Linked DNA regions of Homo sapiens: region 1 is linked to region 2. Evidence: fine-mapped expression QTL. A gene starts in region 2. The other region holds a variant in brackets. All regions are shown on one strand. Distances are from middle to middle.

The links.
Region 1: its variant is fine-mapped to the expression of NPBWR1 in unexposed skin (GTEx, PIP 0.97).

Annotation. Positions count from the first base shown.
Region 1 is chr8:52,692,063-52,697,441 of GRCh38, forward strand. The region is part of intron 1 of RB1CC1 (RB1 inducible coiled-coil 1); the gene reads right to left. Among named protein-coding and RNA genes, the nearest start is that of RB1CC1, 20 kb to the right of the region's middle. The variant A/C (reference allele first, on the strand shown) is at 2,246.
Region 2 is chr8:52,936,298-52,941,676 of GRCh38, forward strand. NPBWR1 (neuropeptides B and W receptor 1) reads left to right here and starts at 2,885. Exons shown (of 2, transcript NM_005285.5): 1 at 2,885-3,069; 2 at 3,414-5,379. The coding sequence starts at 3,611. The coding sequence ends at 4,597. RefSeq lists enhancers at 3,060-3,691, 3,692-4,323.

The DNA.
Region 1 (5,379 bases), 240 kb before region 2:
GATTAAACTTGTCTAAAGGAACAAACTTAGTAAACCAAAACAAAAGTAAACTTAGCCAGGGGTGTGAACACAGGTCAATAAATTCATTCATTCAATAAAAATATCACCTGAGAATCTAGTTAGGTACCAGGCATTTTCTTAACTTTGGGAATAAAATACAAAATAATAAAACTGTCTGCTCTCATGAATTTTAATATCATAGTGGGCAACATGAAAATTTTATATTTATATAAAACTCCATGATACCTACTTTCAGGGGGAAAAAAGCTACAAAAAATCTTTTTTTTAAAGTAAAAACAAACATGAAGTTCCAAAATACATACTTCCACTTTGCTTTTATTCTTTAGAGATAATGATACTGTTGGCATAGCAATAGCTTCCATTGACTGGAAACATGAGTAAGAACTGTATGAAGTATATGATATTCTTACAAATCCTATAGTGAGAGAGGTTAAGAATTATCCGCATCATTCATATGACAAAACTATGGCTCAAAGAAGTTATTTCCTAAAGTCACATAGAAAGAAAGTTGTAAAAACTTAAAATCCATAGCTGGATCACGGGGGAAAAAAGAACATGAACATACTACATTAAAATCCCTTAAATAAGACTACATGTAGTAAGCATATTCTATGACTTGGGACTTTACTATTCCTTTAGAAATAGCAACACTTTTTTCCCCTTGCAGATTTTCTCCCTTATGTGACCATTTAAAAAATTTCCTTTACTAAATACAATACAAAAAAAACCTCTTTCAATATGAAGTAAGAAGAGTGGAATAACAGAACACTTTAAATGTGACAAGGTAAGGTTTTCAACAGAAAGCAAAGTCATCATCCAAGAAATGGCATGGACCCAGATCCTGAGAGAACAAGATTTCCTTGTGTCCATAAATGAAAAGGTGATCTTCACCTACAACCACCTGATCTTCCACAAACCTGACAGAAACAAGCAATGGGGAAAGGATTCCCTATTTAATAAACGGTGCTTGGAGTCTTGGCTAGCCATATGCAGAAAACTGAAACGGAATCCCTTCCTTACACCACATACAAAAATCAACTCAAGATGGATTAAAGACTTAAATGTAAAACCCAAAACTATGAAACCCTAGAAGAATACCTAGGCAATACCATTCAGGACATAGGCACAGCAAAGGTTTCATGACAAAAAAGCCAAAAGCAATTGCAACAAAAGCAAAAATTGACAAATGGAATCTAATTAAACTAAAGAGCTTCTGCACAGCAAAACAAACTATCATCAGAGTGAACAGACAACCTACGGGATGGAAGAAAATTTTTGCAATCTATCCATCTGACAAAGGTCTAATATCCAGCATCTTCAAGGAACTTAAACAAATTTACAAGAAAAAGAAAACATACATGTAGCCAACAAACATGAAAAAAAAGCTCAACATCAAAGATCATTAGAGAAATGTAAAGCAAAACCATAATGATATATCATCTTACACCAGTCAGAATGGATATTATTAAAAAGTCAAAGAAAAAGACAGATGCTGGCAAGGTTGTGGAGAAAAAGGAATGCTTTTACACTGTTGGTGGGAGTGTAAATTAGTTCAACCATTGTGGAAGACAGTGTGGCGATTCCTCAAAGACCTTGAGGCAGAAATACCATTTAACCCAGCAATCCTGTTACTGATGAGAACATATAGACACACGGGGGTAGGATGGGGAAACAACACTCACTGGGGCCTGTCAGAGGGTGAAGGGTGGGAGGAGGGACAGCATCAGGAAGAATAGCTAATGGATGCTGGGCTTAATACTTAGGTGATGGGATAATCTGTGCAGCAAACCACCATGGCACATGTTTACCTATGTAACAAACCCATATATCCCGCACATGTACCCTTTAACTTAAAATTTAAGAAAAGAAAAGGTGATCTTGGCATGTAGCAGAGAGAAATTTTTCCATACCTGGTCATCCTGGCAGTGTGGAATTCTCTAGAAATGTGCATACTGAACACTTCACAGCTAAAGAAACATATAGAGGAGAACCTACCTATCGTAGCCAAGAACAGAGCTGAGTGTTTAACACAGACAGCTACCCCTTTGCATCCTCACACACTTCACTCCCAGGACACACACTGGGGCCACCTTCAAATAGGGAACTCCACCCTACTGCTGGCAACTGCAGGACAGTGAGGAGTATAATCTTGGCTCTAGAGTGGAAGACTCAACAGGTCACGTGGTCTCCCACCAGGCTTTCAGGAAGAAGAGGAGGGTGATTC[A/C]GGATCTGCTCTCAAAGCAGAAAATAACATGGTGTTGGCCTCTACTCCCAGGCTCATCCCCCCCGGGTAGTCCCCTGTGGATCCGGAGACAGTCTCGAACTGATGCCAACTGGGCACAAAACATGCCCACCATCCTGGATGGCTCATCCCGGACAAACGGGACGCAGCAGGAGTTTTCTCTCTTATTACATTAAACATCTATACATCATAGCCTCAATTTTGCCTCTTGGAGAGTAAAGCCTAAAATACTTAACTATCTGGTCCTTTAGAGAGAAAGTGTGTGCCTCTTCCTCCAAAGCTTAAGCAACTACAGCCACTTCAGTGAGAGCTGCACATACTTTAGTTAATACCAGGCATCTACTAGTGAAGGACTGAACCTCCTGGTAAGCAGCACTTCCATCATATGGAAGTGACAGCAACAATACAAAGAAGTCCTGCCCAGAGACAAGCCCAATTTCCCAGTTTTCTTTCTAACAGATGATAGACCCAGGACTGATCACACAATGACTGGTATTCTAGTTTAGTGGGAGAGGAAAGGGTAGAAAACCAAAAAGAAGAAGATATTTTCCATACCTGCCACCCATCATTTAATTCAAATATCCAAAGATGTGATTACTGGTGAAAATGACAATAACAAGTGACTAAGGATTACTATTAGCTTTTTAGTAGGAGTTCCTATAAATTAATAAGAAAATCACAAAGACTCACAATAGATAAATAGGCAAAGGGCATGAGTAGGTTATCAAGTGGTTAACAAATGTGGAAAATATTTGAGGCCTCTTCAGTAATCAAAGAATTACAAATCTAAAAAGAAGACAGTATTTTTCTCCTACTAAGCAAGCAAGATTTTCGACCTAAGATTCCAAGGTTTTCAACCCAAGAGAAAAGAAATAAAATGTATAAAGAAGTAAAAAGTACTTTAGAAATACTAGTATAAACAAGAATTTTTCTCTTTCCATAAAACATTTATTCCATAGCTCCATTGAAAAGAAGGCATTGACAGACCTAGAGCCAGAAGTACCCACAGCACAACAGGCAGTGAAAAATTAACATTAACCAAAGAAAGGTCTGGCCTTTGCCCTTCGCTACTGGGAGGTGATCTCTAGGCCCCTGTAATATCCTGACAGATAGAACTGTGTTTGTTTGCCTTAGGGCTTCAGTCACGTCAGTGTAGCAACGTGACTCATGTATCAGTTAAGTTCTGACCTCCAGAGGAACTACTGACTAAAGACATTGGTCTGACCTCCAGAAAGGGCTAGAGACTAAAGGTGAGTCATGTGGACAGTACAGGATCAAGCCATAATAAAAACTCTGGACACCAAAGACTCAGGTGAGCTTCCCTAGTGAGCAATACTCTGTGTATACTGTCACGCGTTGTGGCCAAGAGAAGGTAACACTGTCTATGACTCCACCAGCAATGATGGCCAGAAGCTCTGAGTTTGGACCCCTTCCAGATTCTGCTCTCTGCCATTGCCTGATTTTAATTTTTGTATCCTTCTCTTATAATAAAAGTGTAATTGTGAGTATAGTGCTTTCCTTCGTTCCCTGACCTGTTCCAGTGAATTCTCCAAAGAGAGGGTGGATATGGGGAACCTGTGAGTTTGTAGTCAGCTGGTTTGAAGTGAGGGTGGGTTCTGGGCACCGCCAAACTTGCCACTAGTACCTGAAATGAGGGCAGTTTTGTGGGACTGTTCCTTCTAACTGTAGAGTTGGCTAACCTCATTACACACTCATACTATGGTTTTTTTGTTTTTCAGACGGAGTCTTGCTCTTGTCGCCCAGACTGGAGTGCAATGGCACAATCTCGGCTCACTGCAACCTCTGTCTCCTGGGTTCAAGCGATTCTCCTGCCTCAGCCTCCCAAGTAGCTGGGATTACAGGCACCCACCACCACGCCCGGCTAATTTTTGTATTTTCAGAGAGACAGAGTTTCTCCATGTTGGCCAGGATGGTCTCGAACTCCTGACCTCATGATCCACCCGCCTCGGCCTCCCAAAGTGCTGGGATTACAGGTGTGAGCCACCACGCCCGGCCTACTTTGGTTTCTAGAAAGAACCTTTGGAGAAGTGGCTAATGCTAAATGTCTAAAGTAGAAAATGTACCAATCACATAAGCCTGGAACATCTTAATATGCCATAAAGCAAGACAGCTAACAAAGACTAAAGAGATTAGGTCAAAAAGGCAAGGAAAACAACTTTAAAAGGCTTCTACTGGCTATGATGGGACAGTCTGACCATCAAAAGAATGAGTACAAGTAACTGAATGGCAAAAACCCATAAAAATCCATGCTGCATAATGATACTCAAAAAAACAAAAACAAAAAACCTCAGTGAGCTAAGATAGAACCCATGATAAAAACTTAAAAAGCAAAGAAATTAAGCACTGTCCTTCCTATATGAAATGTATTTTGGATAGCTGGGCACAGTGGCTCATGCCTGTAATTCTAGCACTTTGGGAGGCCTAGGCAGGCTGATCACTTGAGCTCAGGAGTTCAAGACCAGCCTGGGTAACATGGCAAAACCCTGTCTCTACAAAATATACAAAAATTAGCCAGGCATGATGGTGCACACCTGTACTCCCAGCTACTTGCGGGGCTGAGGTGGGAGGATTGTTTCAGCCTGGGGGATGGAGGATGCAGTGAGCCAAGATCACACCACTGTACTCCAGCCTGGGCAAGGGAGAGAGACCGTCTCAAAACAAAAAACAAAACAAAACAAAAAAGATACGTATTTCAGTCCATTTATATGGAAAACCTCCAGCTAATAGCGATTCAACTGGACACAGCCCAAGTATAAAGTTTTCTTGCCACCCCAGACCACCTCTGAAAAAGTAAACCTGAATTTAATCAAGCAACTATATGTACCTACGGTTTCCAGTTTCTAGGAAATATGGAGTATAAAGAAAAAGACAAACATTATGATGAATCAGTTAAATTCAGAATAAGCATTCCACAGAACAATGACTCTGTTTCTTCAACAAATGGTTACTAAAAAAAAAAAAAAAAAAGAAGACTTTTTATAAACTAAAAAAGATGGACGAGACAAAATAAACAAATGCCATGTGTGAATTTGTTCAGATCCTGGATCCTGACTTAAAACAACTGTATAATAACATTTTTGGGATAAATGTGCAAA
Region 2 (5,379 bases):
AGAAATTCACACTCATTAATTGAAATTCCCCCCCCCCGTCCTTTCAGTAACTAATGAGACAGTTAGATAAAAATATCAGCAGAAGCCAGGCACGGTGGCTCACACATGTAATCCCAGCACTTTAGGAGGCTGAGGTTGGTGGTTCGCTTGAGCTCAGGAACTCAAGACCAGCCTGGGCAACATGGTGAGATCCTGCCTCTACGAAAAATACAAAAAATTAGCCTGGTGTGGTGATGCGCACCTGTAATCCCAGCTACTAGGGGTGCTGAGAGGGGATGATTACTTGTGCCCAGGAGGTTGAGGCTGCAGTGAGCTGCAATTGCACCACTGTACTTCAGCCTGGGTGACAAAGCAAGACCCAGTCTCAAAAAAAAAGAAAAAAAATCAATAGAGAAATTTGAACAACATAGTAAGTTTGACTAGTTGACATATGTAGAGTTTTGCACCCAACAAGTGCAAAACAATTTTTCAAGTACACATGAAATAATTAGAAAATAACTATATACTGGGGAGTAAGTTTCAAAAAATATCTATGAATTGAAGTCATATTGAGTATGTTCTCAGTTTACAGTGTAATTCAACTGGAAGTCAACAATAAAAAGGCTAGAAAATCTCCAAACGGTTGAAGATGATCAACTATATACATACATGTGTATATATACACATAAACATATATGGACACACGTGTATACATACGTGTATATACACGTATATACACATGTGCATATGTGTATACAAACATTCACACGTGTATACACACGTGTATAAACTATATACATGTGCATATATACACACATACACACATGTGTGTATATATGTGTGTATATACACACGTGTGTATGTGTATATACACGTGTGCATATGTGTGTGTATATACACACAAGTGTGCATATATGTGTGTATATACACTGTGTATGTGTGTGTATATACACGTGCATATGTGTCTGTATATACACGTGTGTATATGTGCGTGTATATATGCGTGTGTATATATGTGTGTGTATATACACGTGTGTGTATATATGTGTATGTATACACGTATGTGTATATAGTTGATCATCTTCAACCGTTTGGAGATTTTCTATTATATATATTTTTTCTTTAACATTATATGGTGTTTTATCATATAGTGTTTCTTACGGACATAGCTTAAGAATCATCTGTTATTTTGTTTCACAGAAAGTGTGAAACTGCAGGGGAGCCGATTTGTATAGATCCTGGTAAAAAGATAATTGAGTAGGTAAATTCCAGGGAGCTTTTGGACAGTGGATCCCCCTGTCAGTGGTTTTGGAGTCCCTAGTTTCAGTTACTCGTGGTCAACTGTGGTCTAAAAATATTAAACAGAAAATTCCAGGAATAAACAGTTCCTAGGTTTTCAATTGTGTTGACTTCTGATTGGCGTGATGAGATCCAGCCATCTTACTCCTTCCCACAGAAAGTGAGTCCTCCCTTTGCCCAGCGTTTCCCTGCTGTCTACAATATCCACCTGTTAGTCACTTCACAATCTGGGTTATTAGATGACTGTGGCAATGACCAGTGTGGTGTCTTCAAGTTGCCTTGATTTTACTGACTTTTTGCCCTTATTTCTCTCTGGCTCCAAAGTGCAAGAGAAGTGATGCTGGCAATTCAGATATGCCAAAGAGAAGCTGCAAATGCCTCCTTTAAGTTAAAAGGTAAAAATTCTGGACTTAATAAGGAAAGAAAAAAAATCATATGCAGAGGTTGCCAAGATCTACTAAAAACAAATCTATCCACGAAAATGTGAAGAAGAAAAAAGAAATGCATGCTAGTTTTGCTGTTGCATCATTTTTGGATGGAAGAACAGAAACATGTTCCCATTGACCGCAATGGGTACTATCCATGGTTTCAGGCATCCACTGGGGCTCTTGGAACCTATCCCCCATAGGTATGGGGGGGCTACTGTATTTCTGGCCCCACAGTCTTCTACTGCCGACTTTAGGTCTCTCTGGATCTCAGGCCCCCTTCTCTAAGATGCATCCTAGAGGACCAAAAATACACTTTATTTGGGCTTCGCCTGCTTTTGTGGAAGGGTAGTTTACTAGAGGATATAATCTCGTGTTTTAATTTGCTCTCTCTCCTAAAGGAAATGTGGAGAAAAAAAAAAAGCAGAAATTGGAAATAACCAATATTTAGTTTATTTCATTCGATTCTTAGGGGAACTGGTGAGGAGCCTAAGATGATTTTCCCTTCCTAGAGAAAGAATCCAAAGTCCAGGGAAATAGCGACAGGGGAGTTCAAGACTGCCCCTGCTAGTCCTTCCTTGGCTACTCTCCGCTGCGATCGCAGGATAGCTCTCATTAGCAGGAGAATCGGGCAAGTGTGTGGATAAGTAGAGAGTGTGTTGAACAACTTGTAACGTTTTATGAAATACGCATTGTCATGGTTCCCTAAAAGGCTTTGCGGAAGCCGTTTGTCTTTACTAATCAAGTCTTTACTTACACAAAAGTAGAAGTAGAAGTAGTTTTAGAAAACATACTAACAATCTTCTATCCCCTTGAAGACCAGAGTAGCAGAAAACAGGTGATTTGCATTATAAAATTGCACTCACTTTTTCCTCCTTTCAGATTTCACATTACATTAGCCTATTTGTGTTACGGTGTATAAAAAATGGAACAGGCGCCTCCACTACATTGTTCTCCTTTAAAAATAGATCACTTACACCCTAACTTTGTTTTCCTTAAATTCGATTCTTAACAGGAGAGCTTTCTATTATTTCAGATGGAGTGAGGTTGCACGACTGGGATGGAAGAAAGGAATCCCTTAAATTTGGGGGAATTTCTGTTCTCTGTTCTAAGACCATTTTACTTGGGGTGTGGGGGTGGGCGCGGCGGTCAGGGCAGTGGAACGCAGTCGCGGCTGCGCCATCCCTGCACTTCCAGGCGCGCGGGAGGGACCGGCGGGGACGCGAGCTGCGGACTCTGGCGAACTCGGGGGAGGCAGACAGGGGGAGGCGGACACCCAGCCGGCAGGCGTCTCAGCCTCCCCGCAGCCGGCGGGCTTTTCTCCTGACAGCTCCAGGAAAGGCAGACCCCTTCCCCAGCCAGCCAGGTAAGGTAAAGACTGCTGTTGAGCTTGCTGTTACTGAGGGCGCACAGACCCTGGGGAGACCGAAGCTTGCCACTGCGGGATTCTGTGGGGTAACCTGGGTCTACGGAAGTTTCCTGAAAGAGGGGAGAAGGGTTTGCATTTTTCCTATGGAGGATTCTTCTCTCTCTAGCATTTCGTTTGATGTATTCAACTGGTAGAAGTGAGATTTCAACAGGTAGCAGAGAGCGCTCACGTGGAGGAGGTTTGGGGCGCCGCGGCGCCACCCCCACCCCTCCTCGGGACCGCGCCTATTTCTAAAGTTACACGTCGACGAACTAACCTATGCTTTAAATTCCTCTTTCCAGCCCCGTGAGTCCGCGGCGACATTGGGCCGTGGGGTGGCTGGGAACGGTCCCCTCCTCCGGAAAAACCAGAGAACGGCTTGGAGAGCTGAAACGAGCGTCCGCGAGCAGGTCCGTGCAGAACCGGGCTTCAGGACCGCTGAGCTCCGTAGGGCGTCCTTGGGGGACGCCAGGTCGCCGGCTCCTCTGCCCTCGTTGAGATGGACAACGCCTCGTTCTCGGAGCCCTGGCCCGCCAACGCATCGGGCCCGGACCCGGCGCTGAGCTGCTCCAACGCGTCGACTCTGGCGCCGCTGCCGGCGCCGCTGGCGGTGGCTGTACCAGTTGTCTACGCGGTGATCTGCGCCGTGGGTCTGGCGGGCAACTCCGCCGTGCTGTACGTGTTGCTGCGGGCGCCCCGCATGAAGACCGTCACCAACCTGTTCATCCTCAACCTGGCCATCGCCGACGAGCTCTTCACGCTGGTGCTGCCCATCAACATCGCCGACTTCCTGCTGCGGCAGTGGCCCTTCGGGGAGCTCATGTGCAAGCTCATCGTGGCTATCGACCAGTACAACACCTTCTCCAGCCTCTACTTCCTCACCGTCATGAGCGCCGACCGCTACCTGGTGGTGTTGGCCACTGCGGAGTCGCGCCGGGTGGCCGGCCGCACCTACAGCGCCGCGCGCGCGGTGAGCCTGGCCGTGTGGGGGATCGTCACACTCGTCGTGCTGCCCTTCGCAGTCTTCGCCCGGCTAGACGACGAGCAGGGCCGGCGCCAGTGCGTGCTAGTCTTTCCGCAGCCCGAGGCCTTCTGGTGGCGCGCGAGCCGCCTCTACACGCTCGTGCTGGGCTTCGCCATCCCCGTGTCCACCATCTGTGTCCTCTATACCACCCTGCTGTGCCGGCTGCATGCCATGCGGCTGGACAGCCACGCCAAGGCCCTGGAGCGCGCCAAGAAGCGGGTGACCTTCCTGGTGGTGGCAATCCTGGCGGTGTGCCTCCTCTGCTGGACGCCCTACCACCTGAGCACCGTGGTGGCGCTCACCACCGACCTCCCGCAGACGCCGCTGGTCATCGCTATCTCCTACTTCATCACCAGCCTGAGCTACGCCAACAGCTGCCTCAACCCCTTCCTCTACGCCTTCCTGGACGCCAGCTTCCGCAGGAACCTCCGCCAGCTGATAACTTGCCGCGCGGCAGCCTGACTCCCCCAGCGTCCGGCTCCGCAACTGCCCGCCACTCCTGGCCAGCGAGGGAGGAGCCGGCGCCAGAGTGCGGGACCAGACAGGCCGCCTAGGCCTCCTGGGGAAACCGACTCGCGCCCCATACCCGACCTAGCAGATCGGAAGCGCTGCGACTGTGCCCGCAGGTTGACCTTGCCAAGCCCTCCAGGTGATGCGCGGCCATGCCGGGTGAGGAGAACTGAGGCTGAGATCGCCACACTGAGGGCTCCCTAAAGCCGAGGTGGAGGAAGAGGAGGGTAGAGGAGGAGGGCGGTATTGCTGGGAACCGCCCCCTCCCTGCCCTGCTCCCTGCTGCCCCACCCGAGCCCTGGCAGTCTGGAACCTGGCTGGAGTCGGAACTCTCCGCGCCTTCGAAGGGAGGCCCGAGGACGCTGCCGGCGCCCCCAGGCGTCGGCTCCGCGCGGCCCCTGCTGTAGCTGGCGCACAGCCCCGGCGGGTCCCCTTGTCCTCCGCGCGCTCTGGGAAGACGGTCAGGCGCGCGCGTTTGGCGCCCACCCCTGTGAGACCCGCTTGGCCTGGCGCCGCGGGCGGGGACCGCTGCCGAGGCCGCCAGCGCCTCTTCAACTGGGGAAAACACAACAACTCGGGATGCCCCATCGGAGTGTGTATACACCTGTGTGTGTGTGTGTGTGGTGTGCGCGCGTTTGCGGAGGCATGAAATGCGGGGAAAGAGGCTGGCGCTTGGCAGTGACTGCCTAGAATATGATACGAATAGTGATCCTTCTTTCTGTCTGCCCCTACTC